3 linked regions of the Homo sapiens genome follow. The protein of the gene in region 1 purifies or fractionates together with the protein of each later gene. This does not show direct contact. Each region holds a gene or a part of one and is shown on either strand. Other genes may lie near its edges. The genes, in order: RETREG1, RTN3 and RTN1.

What was found.
Region 2: the proteins of RETREG1 (region 1) and RTN3 purify together in Homo sapiens (affinity purification with mass spectrometry, with the first as the bait; one study listed by BioGRID). This does not show direct contact.
Region 3: the proteins of RETREG1 (region 1) and RTN1 purify together in Homo sapiens (affinity purification with mass spectrometry, with the first as the bait; one study listed by BioGRID). This does not show direct contact.

The regions. Positions count from the first base shown.
Region 1 is NC_000005.10:16,477,422-16,481,078, reverse strand, and holds part of RETREG1 (reticulophagy regulator 1), read left to right. Parts: coding exon 1-70; intron 71-2,091; coding exon 2,092-2,229; intron 2,230-2,980; coding exon 2,981-3,045; intron 3,046-3,290; coding exon 3,291-3,417; intron 3,418-3,657. UniProt on the Homo sapiens protein: Endoplasmic reticulum (ER)-anchored autophagy regulator which mediates ER delivery into lysosomes through sequestration into autophagosomes.
Region 2 is NC_000011.10:63,715,933-63,719,589, reverse strand, and holds part of RTN3 (reticulon-3), read right to left. Parts: intron 889-3,657; coding exon 1-888. UniProt on the Homo sapiens protein: May be involved in membrane trafficking in the early secretory pathway. Inhibits BACE1 activity and amyloid precursor protein processing. May induce caspase-8 cascade and apoptosis.
Region 3 is NC_000014.9:59,741,714-59,745,370, reverse strand, and holds part of RTN1 (reticulon-1), read left to right. Parts: intron 1-3,657. UniProt on the Homo sapiens protein: Inhibits amyloid precursor protein processing, probably by blocking BACE1 activity.

The sequences.
Region 1 (3,657 bases):
TGTAGTGTGTGCACATTTTTTACGATCTTGGGAAGTTACATTCCTGGGGTTATACTCAGCTATCTACTGTGTAAGTATAGTAGAACATATGGCTAAGTGTTGTGATGCATATGGTATCACCTTACGGTCAACAGACCTGTAGTTTGAAGAGGGGGGATGAGTTCTTAACTATAATACAAGTTGATTATTCTTTAATCTCCTGCTGTACAAAGTTTCTCCATTTTCCTAGAGACATGTCTCTATTTTAAAATTGGAAGAATAGCTGCAAAAGGCAGAATTATAAGTGAATAATTTTATGTTAAATTTTGTCAGTAAAAGTATACATAAAGCTGTATGCCCCACCTCCCAAAAACACACCAACACCTTTGCCTTCGTGCGTGTTCTTTGGCTCAAAAAAATAATTAAAACCACAATGAAATACCATTGCATCCCTACCAGAATGGCTAAAATTAAAAATACTGACCACATCAAGTATTAGGAGGGATGCAGAGCAAGTGGAATTCTCACATACTGTTGCGGGGTAGGTAGAATGTTAAAATCACTTTGGATAACAGTTTGGCAGTTTCTTAAAAACTACTACATGACAAAGCTATCCCACAACTAGGTACTTACCCAAAAGAAATGAAAGTACAAAGACATAAATGTTCATAACAGATTTATATGTAGTAGCCAAAAGCAGAATATAATCCATACATCCATCAATTGGAGGAATGGGTAAGCAAACTGTGGTATATCCATATAATGGATTACTACTTAGCACTAAAAATGGATACATACAACACTAAAGATAAATCTCAAAATAATTAGACTGAGTAGACAAAACCAGATGAAAAAGTGTGATTCCATTTATATATTATTCCAGAAAATTCAAACAATCTTTAGTGACAAAGCAGGTCAGTGGTTGCCTGGGGATGAGGTGGGTGGGGGCAGGGAGAAGAGGCAGGAGACTGGAAGGAAGGTTGAATAAAACCATGAGAAAACTTCATGTCTACTGGTAGACATGTTCACTATCTTGATTATGGTGATGGCTTCTTAGTTGTATGCATATGTCAAAATTTATCAAATTGTACACTTTAAATACATGTATTTTATTATACATCAATGACCACCCAAAAATGTTATTAAAAAGTATGGATTTTCTTCACCTGAAAACTATGATCTGGCACTGCTACCTTTCGATGGGGCAGGCACTCTCCACTTAACATACCCCCATATTTTCCAATTTTTCTTACAATGGACTTTAAAATTTACATACAATTTCTTGGCCTCTAGAGACATTTGAGTTTGTAGCTCTTATTTTAAAATATAATACGGGACACTTCCTAAAACGAACAAAGAAATAAATATTGGGAATACAATACTTAGAGTGTGGCAATCTTTGCTTCTTTTTGTATTCTTAATGCATAATGCAAATGGCAAATGGTCAGAGCTCAAATCCATTCTCCCCAAAAGAAGTCATATATAACATCAGCCTCATGATGACATTGTTTAGGAGGTAAAGGAGAAGAGGACTGGGGAATGAAAGAATAATTTGGGCAAGGCATTATTCAGATGGTTTGCATTGATTTCATTTATGCTTCACAACAACCCCAAGAAATAATGTTACTATCCTAATATTATTGATGAGAGGCTAATAACTTTCCCATGGTGAAATGGCATTGAATAAACACAGTTAAACCAGGACTGTTGTCTGGAAGGCATGTAATTTTTCTATAAATTTTGAGAATAAAAGGATTGAAAGGAGGGAGTTGATCTAACTGCACCTGGAAACAATGACTGTGAGCATTGTGTAAGTGTGGGTATGCATGTGTGTGTTTGTGGGTGGTGGTAGAAAATGTTTACCTTACAGAAAAAGAATAGAAATTATAAACTTGTGTAAGTGTGGGATGCATGTGTGTGTTTGTGGGTGGTGGCAGAAAATGTTTACCTTACAGAAAAAGAATAGAAATTATAAACTTATTTCACAATGGCATTTCCCTTAAAAAAACTTAAGTTTTTCAGTAAAGAAATGTAGTATTTTGTGAAATACTGAAATGTACGTAGCCTTTTGAAAGGAAAGGCATTTTACCTCTGCTCTCTTTCTTCTTTCAGTACTGTGTGCATTTTTGTGTCCATTGTTTAAATGTAATGATATTGGACAAAAAATTTACAGCAAAATTAAGTCAGTTCTGCTGAAACTGGATTTTGGAATTGGAGAATATATTAATCAGAAGAAACGTGAGAGATCTGGTAGGTAAAGTTTATATTTTAGATTCTATGCATGAAATGAGACATTAGCGAGCTATTTTTAGGAAATTCTTTAATACATTTGAGGATACTTTTAGCTTTTTACTAAATATTATTATAGAAGCTAATCTCCCTCAAAGTTATATATATCCTTTTCCTATTTGGGCTTTCCTTCTTTTCTCAAATATACAATTAAATAAATTGACTTTTTAATCCACAGTGTCAGGGGAGAAAGAAAAGGCTTCAACACTCTTTATTGTGCTACTTATGATTTACTTAGTTTTATTTTGGGTTGGACTATCACAAAGAAAAAGAAAATACAGGAAAAGCCAATATAATCATCTCTTACTTTTTAACTTGGCTTATGACCTTATAGGTTCTCAAACTAGAATGTATCGGAGTCACGTGGAGGGCTTATTAAAGGACAGATTGCTAGGCCCCAGCCCAGAGTTTCTGATTCAGTAGGTCTAGGGTAGGGCCTGAGAATCTGCATTTCTAAAAAGTTCCCAGGGAGGATGCTTTTGCTGTTTCAGGGACAATATTAAGAGAGCCACTAATGTGGATCATTTCCTTTGCAAATATGTGAAGCTTGTTATGTGCAAACATTTAATTATATTTGTAGTTAAGAATATGAGAAATATATATTTGTATTTGGAGAATATGAGAAATGTGGGGTAAGAATACATAATGAAATAAATGCACTATGTCTGAGTTGGCTAGGAAACTGAAAGCTTCCAAATTTTTTCCTCAACAGAAGCAGACAAAGAAAAAAGTCACAAAGATGACAGTGAATTAGACTTTTCAGCTCTTTGTCCTAAGGTATTTTTTGTTTAGTTTTCAATTTGTTCCTGTGTGGTTTGACTGTAAATGCATGTATGCATACAAAGCTGAATGATCTTCCTAATAAACTCCTCATATTTCTGTAAGATGACTGAATGATTTCAAAATAAAAATATCCATTTGGTTTTTATTACTCTGTCATTTTGGGGGTTCATATGGATTTTTCAAAATATTCCCTTCAGCAGTTTAAAATGTGCCGCTGGTATTTATTTATATTAACACAGATTAGCCTCACGGTTGCTGCCAAAGAGTTATCTGTGTCTGACACAGACGTCTCAGAGGTATCCTGGACTGATAATGGGACCTTCAACCTTTCAGAAGGATACACTCCACAGACAGACACTTCTGATGGTATGCTAATATTTCTGGAGACATTTATTTTTATGAGTGCATACAAAACTATTGAACTTCTGTCAAATACTGAATGGGTAAATAACATGTTACCACCATATCTACACAGTAGAATATTACTTGGCTATAAAAATGAAGTCCTGATACTTGCTACAACATGGATGAACCTTGAAAACATGCTAAGAAGCCAGACACAAAATGCCACATACTGTGTAATTCCATTTATATGAAATGCCTAGA
Region 2 (3,657 bases), on another chromosome or scaffold:
TAGTTTTTGTGATGCAGTCAGAAGATTTATCGGTCTGTTGTTTCACTTGGGGAACCAGATCCCAAGTCAGTATTTCGTTAGTAAAGTTATGCATATCATTCACGCATCTGGACACCTCTTCCAGTGCTGCATTTGTGTGTGAAAACTGCCTACTGAGCAATGCAGACATTGGGTAACGTCCTGCCTCTTTATTTCTCAGTGGAAAAAGCTTGTCATTAGTCTCTGAAATGTCTTCGGATGATTCTTTATCAGTGTGCACAGACCAGCTACCAAAATCATCTGTGCTCTCCTTATATGAGTCTTTAAATTCTTTGTCAAATGCTGCTTTGTCAATAATTACTTCAAATGGTGATTCAGGGGAATCCTTTTCAATAACATCATCTCCTGAAACTTTGGATGGAGACAAAGAATATGTATAAATGCCTTCTACCTTAGAGTACTCAGTAGGTGGTTTCTGGGCTGTCAGCAAAGTGAATCTGTCATCAGCATCCAATGCAGTTTTAGCCTCCCTACTTGATACCCCATTTGGGTTCTTGGTCTCTTTATCTATTTGCTCTTCCACTTGACCAATTTTCTTTGAGAGAAAAGCAGGATGCTCTGGGAAACTGGCTGGAATAGAAGGACGGTCACAATGAACTCCTGCTGCAAGAGAAACTGAAGAGTCTGATACGTTGTTGCTGGTCCCCTGAGGCTTTTCCATCTTTTTCATATCTAGAAGATCCAAGTGGTCTTTTCCTTCTTTGGCTAAAATAGGCTGGCTCCCTAACACATGGCTTTTTTCTCCATGTAGTATTGTAAGGCCAGTGTTATGTATTTCAGAAGATGAAAGAAAGGAAGAAGTCATAATTTCTGAAGATGGCTCATCAGAGCAAAGAGAGCTCAATCCCTCTATGATCAGAATTTCAAAGAAAAAAATTGTTTACCAGGTACAATTACACATTAGCTAGCCAAGCCAAGCAGCATGCTTTTTATTTTTTAAATTACATAAATATATATATACACACACAGGATGTATATATACACACATAAATATGTAACAAAACGATCAAGTTATCCTACAGGACATGCATAAAACTGCCAACAGTGAAACAGAAAAGCCATATCATGCCACAAACTGCAAATGATAAAAAATTTTCATGACAAATACTTTTGGTCTACTTTTCCATTGTACAGAGAAAGCATAAAGAAGGGCGGTAAGATTGAGAAATCTTGGGAGGTTTTTTATTCTTTGATAGAGCTAATCAACAAAAGCAAAATAATTTATACAAAACAAATAACCTGATACTATAAAGGGTTGATAGACTTCAATCTGTAAGCTGAACAATTCAGAGCACAGACTGCCTCTATAAATCTGTTAGTCTCACAATCTGAAAAGGAAAAAAACTAGTGGCCAGACTTTTTTGATTTTTAGGAGATGCAATGGGCCCTTCCTGAATCTGAAAAATGAGACTAGAATTATTCTATTCTATCCACAGGGAGAATCTGTCCCATGTACAAATAAATAGCTGTGATGTTCTAAACTAAAGGGTACTGAAAAAGGTGGACCCCCTCCAAAATCTTTTTTTTTTTTTTTTGATACGGAGTCTTTTTCTTGTTGCCCAGGCTGAAGTGCAATGGCGCAATCTCAGCTCACTGCAACCTCCACCTCCCAGGTTCAAGCCATTCTCCTGCCTCAGCCTCTCAAGTAGCTGGGATTACAGGCAGGCACCATCAAGCCCAGCTAATTTTTGTATTTTTAGAAGAGATGGGGTTTCACCATGTTGGCCAGGCTGGTCTCTTAACTCCTGACCTCAAGTGATCCACCCGCCTTGGCCTCCCAAAGTGCTGGGATTACAGGTGTGAGCCGCTACGCCTGGCCCCTCCAAAATCTCTTGTACTAACTTGTCATTTAAATCAATATTGTACTGTGCAAATTGATTTCTTTGGTTAAGACAGAGTTAACTTGGCTGGGTGCAGTGGCTCACCTGAGGTCAGGAGTTCGAGACCAGCCTGACCAAAATGGTGAAACCTCATCTCTACTAAAGATACAAAAAAATTAGCCGGGCGTGGTGGCAGGCACCTGTAATTCCAGCTACTCGGGAGGCTGAGGCAGGAGAATCCTTTGAACCCAGGAGGCAGACATTGATGGCAGTGAGCTGAGGTCACGCCATCGCACCCCAGCCTGGGCAACAAGAGTGAAACTGTCTCAAAAAAAAAAAAAAAAAAAAAAAAAAAGACAGAGTTAACTCCAGAATTACTTTTAAAATAGAAAATATCCTTCTCAAAGTAATACGTTAAGTCTTATCAGTTAATACCATAGTAGCCATCAATCTACCACACTGTTTTCTAACTTCCCACTCTAACAAATTTTTACTGGGGAAAAGGATCAAAACAAATATCCCAAGGGCTGGTGCTTTCTTACTTCATTTATTTGTTTGTTTGTATTTGAGAGAGGGTCTCCCTCTGTCCTCCAGGCTGGAGTGCCAGTGGTACAATTGTGGCTCACTGCAGCCTTGACCTCCTGGCCTCAAGCTATCCTCCCACCTCAGCCTCCCAAGTAGCTGGGACCACAGGCACATGCCACCACACCTGGCTAATTTTTAAACTTTCTTTTCTTTTTTTTTTTTTTTTGTTTTTTTTTTGAGACGGAGTCTTGCTCTGTCGCCCAGGCTGGAGTGTAGTGGCGCGATCTCTGCTCACTGCAAGCTCCGCCTCCCGGGTTCGCGCCATTCTCCTGCCTCAGTCTCCCAAGCAGTTGGGACTACAGGCACCCGCCGCCACGCCTGGCTAATTTTATTTTTGTATTTTTAGTAGAGACGGGGTTTCACCGTGTTAGCCAGAATGGTCTCGATCTCCTGACCCCGTGATCCGCCTGCCTCGGCCTCCCAAAGAGCTGGGAATACACGCATGAGCCACCGCGCCTGGCCTGATTTTTAAACTTTCTACAGACCTGGTGCCTCACTACATTGCCAGGTTGGTCTCAAACTACTGGGCTCAAGCAACCTGCCCACCTCGGCCTCCTGAAGTGCTGGGATTATAGGCATGAGCCACCACGCCCACCCTGGGCGCTGTCTTTCTTGCATACTGTTGTATCTTTGGAGCTGGGACAAAGTGGGTCTTAAATAAATAGCCCCAAATAAGTGAATCAAAGATTCAGCTTGGTCAGCTGAGACCTAAGTAGGCTCAGGACAGCAATGCCTTGAGCATGAATGAGTAACTGGGAAAATGTGACAGAGAAGTTCTTTTGGGATTACCTTTATTCAGCTTATGTTCCCTTTTTCATGTAAACATCCAAATACCAGATAAAAGCAAAATTATGACTTCATTCAAAATTATTTTATTAAAGACAAAAATATTTTACAATAAATAAAATTCCAGTATTATGAAAATGTTTTGAAATGCCATATAAAGTTCCCCTACTTCAACACATCACTGAAACTTGATGTAATAAGAGCTGAGCTTTAGAAATAGTATAACTGTAATCTGGTTATTAGAATAAAAAGTCTTTGTACATTCAAGGAAAACTGTAAAAGCTTGGTGGCAAAGCTATATTACCAAAACAAAACACTTGAAGTAAACTGTAATTCATATGTAGTTCTAATTTAGTAAACATGGTTTGCATCTACCATTATACAGTATGGATATTCAGCATGACTAGATTAGGGCATAACAGAAATG
Region 3 (3,657 bases), on another chromosome or scaffold:
CTGCTTCTCAGTTAGCTTTCGGCTAGGATCTGGGTTGTCTTAGTCTGTTTTGTGTTGCTTATAACAGAATACCTGACACAGGGTAATGTATAAGAAACAAAATTTATTTCTTAACAGTTCTGAAAGCTGGGAAGTCCCAGGTCAAAGGGGCGCATCTGGTAAAAGCTTTCTGGCTTGCTAGTGGGGACTCTCTGAAGGGTCCCAAGTGGGTACAGGGTATAATATGGTGAGGGGGCTGAACATGCTAACATGCTATGCTCAAGTCTCTCTTATTCTTCATATAAAGCCACAAGTCACATTTCCATGATAATCCATTAATCCGTTAACTCTTTAATCCATTAATCCATGAGTGGGATAATCCACTCATGAAGGCAGAGCCTTCATCGTTCAATATTTCGTAGTCCATAGCCTCTCAAAGGCTCCACCTCTCAATACTGCCACATTGGGTATTAAGATTAAACATGAGTTTTGGAAGGGACATTCAAACTATAGCACAGGTCTCTTGGAGACATTATGAGGAGAGCACACTGGCTGTTCTCTGTAGACTGCCTGAAGCACCTTGGCCGGGGCATTTAACATTCCTGTCCCTAGCTCTAAGTCTGTACACTTAAAGGGAAGGAAAAGGTGGACTTCTGGATCTTTTAGGGATGGCACAGACAGGAAGAGGAAACCTAAGCAAAGCAAACTCCTCCCTTCCCCTTTCAATCTCAACACTGTCATTTTATATCTCTAGTTTATTGAAGTTCTGCATATAATTTTATTTTTGAAACCAAAAGATGTACTTCATTAAAATTTTTAAAGTTTAGACTTCATTAGGCTATGGTCTTTTTTAACTTGAACATTCTCTTTCTGTGACTGAAGGCAGGATACTAAACAGCACTCATGCGTATTCTGTCAAACACAAAGGGAGCCTCTTATATCCCTGGCTAAAGGCCAGAGAGGCAGCAGGAAACTCCTCACCCCACCCTGTGCCACTCTCTTCTCTCCAGCCTTTGCATCTCCACCTCTCTCAAATGTCCATGAGGCATCGAGATGAAGAGGACAGTGAGAGGTCCTCAAACCTTCCCCTGCCCCTGGTGACTGGCATTCTACCATATCCCAAAGAGCTTTGGTATGCACCTCAGGTGAAAGAGCTTCTAGTAAACTCTGAAAATGGAAGCAAAGCCTGTAGAGGAGGAGCGATTGCTCTAAACCCTGATGGTATAGTACAAATCCAAGTGTTGGAATAGAACAGAATTAATGAAAGTTCCTCCTATCTTCTTTCCCTATAGATTTTAGCATTAATTCCTTCTCCCCAAAGTTCCTTCAGACTCATTCAACCATAGAACTCCAAGGGTCTTAAAGATTCACTGCGCCAGGTCCCTGATTTTCAAATTTACTCATTCACGCAACAAACACTTTCTACATACTTTCTTTTGGTTGGGTACTCTATGAGGCACGACTGATGGGGAATTAACGAAAAATAAAAAACAAACAAAAACCAGTCCCTGCCTCCAGGGGACCAGACGACCAAGGAAGCAGTCCCAATCCAGTGTGCTTGGTGTCCTGAGAAAGGGAATTGTACGGTGCTGACGAGCCCTGGAGTCCAGCAGCTCCCCAGGTGAACTGGGACCACAGGTGACTCTCAGAGGAACAGGGGAAACAAAGAGGTGAAGGGAAGGGTGCCCTTCCAGTCTGAGGAGCTGCATGGACATGGAGTTGTGAGGGCCCAGTGAACTTCACTTAAGATGTAAATTGAGATTTGGGTAGTAATGACAAATCAGAAAACCAAGGCTCCAGGTGGATTAGATACGTCTTGCCCCTGCCTAAAACATGAGGTCAGAACATATCCGAGTTTCCAAGCTTCCTTGTACTCTTTCTGGCAATGCATAGTAAAACTCTTTTATTATTTCCTGCCGTAAAGATACTTGGTGTTCTGAAGATGTAAGTTAATATAGTCAAGCTGTGTTTTACAGAGCTCCCGGGTTGTCCAGTAGTCAGTCCACAAGAACTTCAGCCAGTCCTCAGGAATAGTGAAATGCCCTAGCAAGTATAGGTCTACTTACACGGCACATGCTTCATGTAAAAATTACAGTTTGCAAAGACTTGACAAAGGGTCCATTAATTTTTAGGGAATTTCCATTTTTAAGTAGCCATGGCCCAATTGGGTTCTGGAGAAGGTTCAAGAGAAAACAAAGGCAGATCTGGCTCACATGATATTGGAGTTTTACGATGTTGGGTTGCCCACTTGACAGTATGGGGTTAGGACAATGATTGTCTCTGCAGCTGCAATCAAATAAACATTCTAAGCAAGGCATATTCAGGAAAGAGAAAATGGCCCATTACACATTCTCTCCTATGTTCAGCTCCTCTCTCCATATACATCCCACATCAAAATACCAGAGTCATATGACAACAGATAAGAATGAAATTAACAGGAAGAATCAGCTTCTCATTGAAGCCTTTCTCCCTGCCCTTTTTATCCTGCGAGGTTTCTGACCCCCTTCCCATCTTCTTATGACCCCTGGCACCATGTGACACTGTGCCCATAGACAGTAGAGGATATGGACTTTATTACATCTGTTGAGTCTTGGGTCACTCTGCCATTTCCAGTGACAACAGATTGAAAACAAAAATTGAGAACTGCACATAATTCTACATAGAAACTGAGGAAAAAGAAAGCATGTTAAGCAAAAAAGGGTCCAGTTTATCATTGTTTAATAAATAAGGAAATCATCAAATCTGGAGAATAACTGAAGAGAAATTCTAATTTGGGTTAGCTTTAGCCACAGATGCTGATGTTTAAGCAAGGTGTCTAATATATTTATATTTCTCCCAATTCCAATAGATTATTCCATTTTGTAACGTTCTCCAACATACTTACCTATTTTTACTACATAATATACACTGAGGTGGAGAGGTGAGAATTGTTATAGCTGAAATACTGGAAGTCTCTTTTAAGCCAAGATCAGTCATGAAAAAAGTGAAGCAATTTAGGAAAACATAATAAATGCCCTGATGCCCCAGACATTGACCAGGAGCACCATGTTGTTTCTGACACAAACACCAAGAGGGATATTATGATGGTCCTGGGTGTTATGTGAGCTATTAGCCTCAAAAAGGACAATAATCAGGAAGTCATCCTTAAAACACCCCAGTTTCCCTCAAGAAGAAATGAGCAATTAAAAGTAAATCAACTTAAATTTGAAAACTACCATTGCTATTTCCTTGCATTGATGGGATCTATGATTCTCCTACCCATTTTTAAAATTCATTCTTTTGTTCAAAAAATATTTAGAGTGACTTCTATACATCAGACATGCACTGGCCACTGAGACCTTGTAGTAAATAAGATGTACAAGGTCCCTGCCCTTGCACAGCTTACCTGCTAGTCAGAGGAAACAGGCAATAAAAAACAAACCCATAAATAAACAGTGTAATTTTATAGTGTGAGCACTAGAAAGAGTGATAGAGGGTTGGGTGTGAGGGGTCCAAGGACTGCCCCTCTGAGGAGATGACACATGAACTGAAATCTGAATGAGCAGAAGGAGCCCACAGTTCAGAGAGAAGCTAGGAGGGACCTCAGGTGTGGGGGAATAGCAAATGCACAGGGCCTGAGTCTGTATTATATGAGAACTGAAAGGGGGTTGGTGACACAGGGGAGGAAGAGGGAAGTGG